Regions from separate parts of the Homo sapiens genome. Here region 2 is linked to region 1. The links come from fine-mapping of genetic effects on gene expression. A gene starts in region 1. The other region holds a variant in brackets. All regions are shown on one strand. Distances are between the middles of the regions. Region 1 holds the start of ALPK3 (alpha kinase 3). Region 2 overlaps ZNF592 (zinc finger protein 592).

Region 1 (2,899 bases):
TTCAGGTACTTTCTGGATGCTCTCAGGAAAATAGGAGAAAGAAGGATGGATAAAAAAGTCTGTGGGCACTTCCGGCCGGGCGCGGTGGCTCACGCCTGTAATCCCAGCACTTTGGGAGGCCCAGGCGGGCGAATCACGAGGTCAGGAGATCGAGACCATCCTGGCTAACACGGTGAAACCCCGTCTCTACTAAAAAATACAAAGAAAAAAATTAGCCGGGCGTGGTGTGGGGCGCCTGTAGTCCCAGCTACTCGGGAGGCTGAGGCAGGAGAATGGCATGAACCCGGGAGGCGGAGGTTGCGGTGAGCCGAGATAGCGCCACTGCACTCCAGCCTGGGCGACAGAGCCAGACTCTGTCTCAAAAAAAAAAAAAGTCTGTGGGGACTTCCAATATTTAGACCAGGTTTCGGCAGTGCTTGGCACTAGTTCTTGGAAATTGTTGCATGATTTGATTATTTTTCTGGGTATCAGGACTCAGCCCATTTCCCCCTCTGGTGCTGAGAAATGGAGGCCGAAGGAGTGATCTAGAAGTGTTAATTGAGCCCCTAATCTATGCTAGTTACTGGGGGTGTTGGGGGAGACAGGAGAGAGATCCCACGGGGTTCCGGCCTCCCAGGGACTCAGGTCACTAATGGAGGTGGCTTGGCTTGTCTATGTGCTGGGCCAACAGCCACTGGCGAGGCAAGGCGAGGGTCAGTCACGGCTGGTGCCAGGAAGAGGGCTGGTTCTTTGGCTCCCTGGTCTCCCGCGGTCTAGCCCAAGCTGGCCAGCGGTTGACCTGGCTCCCCTGGCCCCGGCCAGGCCTCGTGGACCCCTCATATGCCACACGGGACATGAGCAGGCCGGCCGGGAGCCGGGTCCCGGGAGCTCCACGAAGGGGCCTGTCCTCCATGACCAGGACACCCGCTGCGCCTTCCTCCCGAGGCCTCCCGGGCCTCTCCAGACGCGGCGCTACTGCAGACACCAGGGCCGCCAAGGGAGCGGACTCGGAGCCGGCCCTGGGGCGGGCACATGGGCCCCGGCGCCCCCCGGCGTCTCCAAGCCGCGCTGCCCGGGTCGGGCCAGGCCAGGGGAGGGACAGCAGCAGGTGACGACGGCCCGGCCACCGGCTATAAATAGGGGCGCGCGTCAGCCGCGGGCGGGAGCGGCGGCGGCGGGCAGGGGCCCGGGGGCCGGGGCCTGGAGGACAGGCGAGGCAGCGGCGAGTGCGGGGCCGGCGGTCGGGGAGGGCGGTGCCATGGGGTCGCGGAGGGCCCCCAGCCGGGGCTGGGGCGCGGGTGGGCGGTCGGGGGCGGGGGGCGACGGTGAGGACGACGGCCCCGTGTGGATCCCCAGCCCAGCCAGCCGGAGCTACCTGCTCAGCGTGCGGCCCGAGACCAGGTAAGTGGCACCAAGGGGCAGGGCGGCGTCGGGCCGGCGATGCCCTGGGATCAGTCCCTGTGAGGGCGGCCTGGCCCCTGGAGGCCTGGGCTGGGCCTGCGCCCTCGAGCCCTCTCAGCCCCAAGGCCCAGGGCCTGGGGACATGGCCGGGCTGGAATGGCTTTCATAGCCCCTTGTGACCCCTCCTGATCCATGCGCCTCAGGCCTCTGGCAATTCGAGGCTCAAGAGAGGACAAAGGCTCCACTTTGGAGTGATTTCATGGGGTCTGAAGGCTTTCCTTATCTCCCCTGCCCCCTACCCTGCTACTCCCTGGCTTGGGATTCCACAGCTAGCGATAAGGAAAGCCAGAGTGGCTGAAATTCCTCCCTGGCAGGAAGGGAGGGGGAGAGCACTGGTGGGGACAGGGAGAGGGTGCTGGGGGGCTGCCCAGAGTAGGAGCTGCTTAGCTCAGGGTGGGGAGGTTCTCCAGGAAGAAATAAACCTTTGTAAATAAGGTTCCTCTACTGGGCCGAGGACTTGGGTCCTCCCCAGGACCTGAGTGGGGGCTGGTGAGATAGGGGGTGGGATGAGGTACTGTCTGGAGATGTTGGGAATTAAGGACTTGCAGCTCTGAGGGAGCCAAGTGCCCTGTCCAGTTTGGGGAAGTGAAATGCCAAGGGAGGTGTGGAACTGATGAGCCCTTCACTGGTCTTCCAAGAGTTCAAGAGGTGTGGAAGCTTTGTTTTAGCAGCTAGGCCACCCACAGATATAAAGACACAAAGACAATAGACAGGCATCCAGGAAATCAAAGGCACACAGGCACACGTGGACAGGCGCATTGCCATGGAGACAGACACTTCCTGCCCCCTGTGGGCAGCTCAGTTTCCCTTCACTTCTGGAGTCTGTTTTCCAAAGGGAAATGTGTTGAGATAGTGGTTGTTTCATAGCCTGAGAACTTGACTTGTGTATTATGCAGAAAACGGCCATTCCTCCAAGAGGCTGTCCAGAGACCTCTTGTTCTCCATTCCTAAAACAGCATAAAAACAGGCATCGAGGACATTCAGGAAAAGTCCTGGGCACTTCCTCGTGAATTGGCTGAGTCCTACTGACCTTGGAGTTGGGAAAGTTCAAATGTAACCGGAACCGGTTTCTGCATAAAACTCGTCAAATGGTGTCACATGTCTGGGGCAGGGCTGAGGACTGATGTTAGTGACTGAGTCAGACTCAACAAGGCCCCTGGCTGCCAGGAAAGAATACCCCTTTTTCTTACTCCTGGCTCTACAGATAAACCAGAATGAAATTTGGACATTTATTCCAGTCCTTAGAGAAGCTGACTCCCTTGTGGGAGCCTCACATTTGTCACAGTGACTTGTCTGGGCTTTGCCTCCTGTGTTTGGCCTTTGTCAATACCAGTGGAACAAACAGAAGAGGCGGAACCAGGGTCCTTCTTGGAGACAGCAGCAATGAAGGAAGGGAGGAAAGAGTGCCTTGAAAACCAGGCAGAATGGGGAGGGCAGGGGATCTGGGCTTTTAGGAAAA
Region 2 (2,899 bases), 31 kb before region 1:
CAGTCTTAGCATGTGACCAAGGAACTTGGGGACAGAGATAGCTGAGTCACTGCCCCTGCACCTCAGTCTGTTCTAAGAACTTTGTCTTTTTTTTTTTTTTCTTGAGACGGAGTCTCACTCTGTCACCCAGGCTGGAGTGCACTGGTGGGATCTCAGTTCACTACAACCTCTGCCTCTGGGGTTCAAGTGATTCTTATGCCTCAGCCTCCCAAGTAGCTAGGACTCCAGGCATGTGCCACCACGCCTAGCTAATTTTTGTATTTTTAGTAGAGACAGGGTTTCACCATGTTGCCCAGGCTGTTCTTGAACTCCTGGCTTCAAGTGATCTGCCCACCTCAGCCTCCCAGAGTGCTGGGATTACAGGCGTGAGCCACTGTCCCCAGCCAAAGAACTGTGTCTTTAATAAGTTGTTGTTCTGCCCTGCAGTGACACAGCTGTTCTTGCAGAGTCCTTTTGTGGAAACTGCAGTAGGGCCAATGGCAGGGCTGGGATAGGAGGAAGGAGAGTGGACAGACATGTGGGGCCTGTGGCAGAGGTTTATGGAGCCTCCTTCTTTCAACTGCGTTCTCACCACTCCAGGAAAGCAACTGTGCTTGTCTGCTTGTTTTGATTCTTGGTTATGCTTGATGAGATTCATTTAAAAAAAAAAAAAAAGCCTTCTGCGCTGAGAATACCCTTTGGCACCTTCTGTGTCTATGTTATGTGTTAGTGGTTTCTCTGAAGAAAGAGGCCTCCAGAAGGTGGTTCTCTTCATGACATAGCCAGACCCACCCCTCATGGTGCTTCCCTAAGCTGGTGCTACAGAGGCCTGGGAGGAAAGTAAAACAGCTCTTTTTGCTTCAGTTCAGCCAGGGTTCTGTGCATGTGTTGGTAGCTGTTGAGCTTTGCATGTGTTCCCTGAGTGCCCACTGTGCATGGGCTGGGGGTCTATGCCAACCAGGGGATGCCGGCAGAAGGGAGTCTAACCTTCAGGAGCTTACAGTGGCCTAGCAAGGGCAGTGGTCACCACCCAAACAGCTACAGTATATGGCCAACTGAGAGTGGGGCTAAACCAAGGTTATAAACTTAGTTGCGCAGAGTGCCCCAGAGGGACTAATTCA[C/T]GATGACTCCATGCGTAAGGAAGATGCTGTGTGGAGGTGAAATTTAAGTTGGGCTTGCAAGGATGAGTTTGGAGGAGTAGGAGGGGCAAGGGTGTTTTGAGTATAGGGAGCAAAGGAATATGAGAGTGCAGAGTGGGTTTGAAGAAGAGGACATTGTTATGCATGAGGCTGGTCTTGGAAATATTAGGGTAGAGGTCAGAGGTTGAGTTTGGCGGGCCTGTAGGGCTTCTGCAGAGGACTCAGCCCCCCAAAGGGGCCAGAAGGTGCTATAGGATCCCACTGTGGCCTCTCATCTCCTCCTGCTCTGTTTCAGTTTGCATTTTTCTTCTGATGCGTCAGATGGGGTGTGGGCACTCTGGGTCTCTTCCCCTGGGGCTTCAGTGTTCTTGCTGCCCCAGCATGGTTGAGTTGGGCCAGGTTTACTTTATCTGAGTCAAGGGGCCATGAGGAGGCCCCATGGCAGTGGAGGTCTGATGCCTGGGCCTGGGATTTTTTCACACTGGTCCTTACGTATCTTTTTTTTTTTTTTTTTTTTTTTTTGTGAGACGGAGTCTTGCTTTGTTGCCCAGGATGGAGTGCAGTGGTGCGATCTCGGCCCACTGCAGCCTCTGCCTCCTGGGTTCAAGTGATTCTCCTGCCTCAGCTTCCTGAGTAGCTGCGACTACAGGTGTGCGCCACCATGCCTGGCTAATTTTTGTATTTTTAGTAGAGATGGAGTTTTGCCATGTTTGCCCAGGCCGGTCTTGAACTTCGGACCTCAAGTGATCCACCTGCCTCGGCCTCCCAAAGTGCTGGGATTACAGGCATGAGCCATCACACCCGCCTCCTTGTGCATCTTCTAAAATTTGAGTAGGCAGAGGTCTGGGTGTAGGATCCCAGGCTGGCATGGCACCTTTCTCATCTTACATCCTCTCTGTGTCATTCTGCCCTAGTGGGAGCTGGAGAAGAGCACCCGCCGACAGGAAGGGAAGGAGTGCACAGAAGGCTATCAGGCCTCTCTCAGCCAGCTCCAAATCCCTCACAAAATCTCATGCCACTCATTGTGGCTTCTGAGTCTCAGGGAAAGGGTGAGCCCTGAGCTATGGGATTAAAAACTAGGCTTGATGGCTGCTGGGCTTGGGTTTTCCACAGGACAGTATCTAGCTTCAGCCCATGTGTCCAGGGCAGGGGGTGGACAGATAGTTGGGCTCCACACCACAGCAGGGACTGTGGGAACAGCATCGGTTTGGGATTTCCATCTTCTTCCTGGGAGTCTGCCCCTGAATGGAGCATGCCTCCCTCTGCAGTGACCCAGGGAGTTCTTTCATCCTTCCTCTTGCTTTCCAAGCCACGCTGTTGGGGCAGGATGTCAGCCAGATGGATATTGTCATTCCACCCAACACAATTAATAACAGTCCCTTAGTATTACCTACTACAAGTTCATATTCAGATTTTTCCAGTTATGTCAAAAAATGTCTTTTTACAGTTGGGATTATTTTGAGTCAGGATCTGAACATGGGGCTATACATCACGTTTGTTTATGTTTCATAAATATCTCAGTCTGGAACAGTACCTCTTCCCACTCCATCCTAGTAGGCACCCTCTTTTCATGCCATTGACTTGTTGAAGAAATTGGGTCATGTGTTCTGAGCATTTTCCAGAACAATTCTGGGTTTAACTGATTGCTTCCTAAGTTTTCCAGAACTTTGAGTTTTACTGATTACTTCCTCATGCAGGGAATTTTTTCCTCCATATCCCATATTTTTTCCTGTAGACTGGAAGTAAGCAATAAAAACTTGATTAGATTCAGGTCAGTTTTG

Evidence for each region.
Region 2: its variant is fine-mapped to the expression of ALPK3 in whole blood (TOPMed, PIP above 0.99).

What each region holds. Positions count from the first base shown.
Region 1 is chr15:84,816,216-84,819,114 of GRCh38, forward strand. ALPK3 (alpha kinase 3) reads left to right here and starts at 1,141. Exons shown (of 14, transcript NM_020778.5): 1 at 1,141-1,380. The coding sequence starts at 1,238. RefSeq lists enhancers at 239-769, 2,897-2,899.
Region 2 is chr15:84,785,227-84,788,125 of GRCh38, forward strand. All of the region lies in intron 4 of ZNF592 (zinc finger protein 592), which reads left to right. Among named protein-coding and RNA genes, the nearest start is that of ALPK3, 31 kb to the right of the region's middle. The variant C/T (reference allele first, on the strand shown) is at 1,101.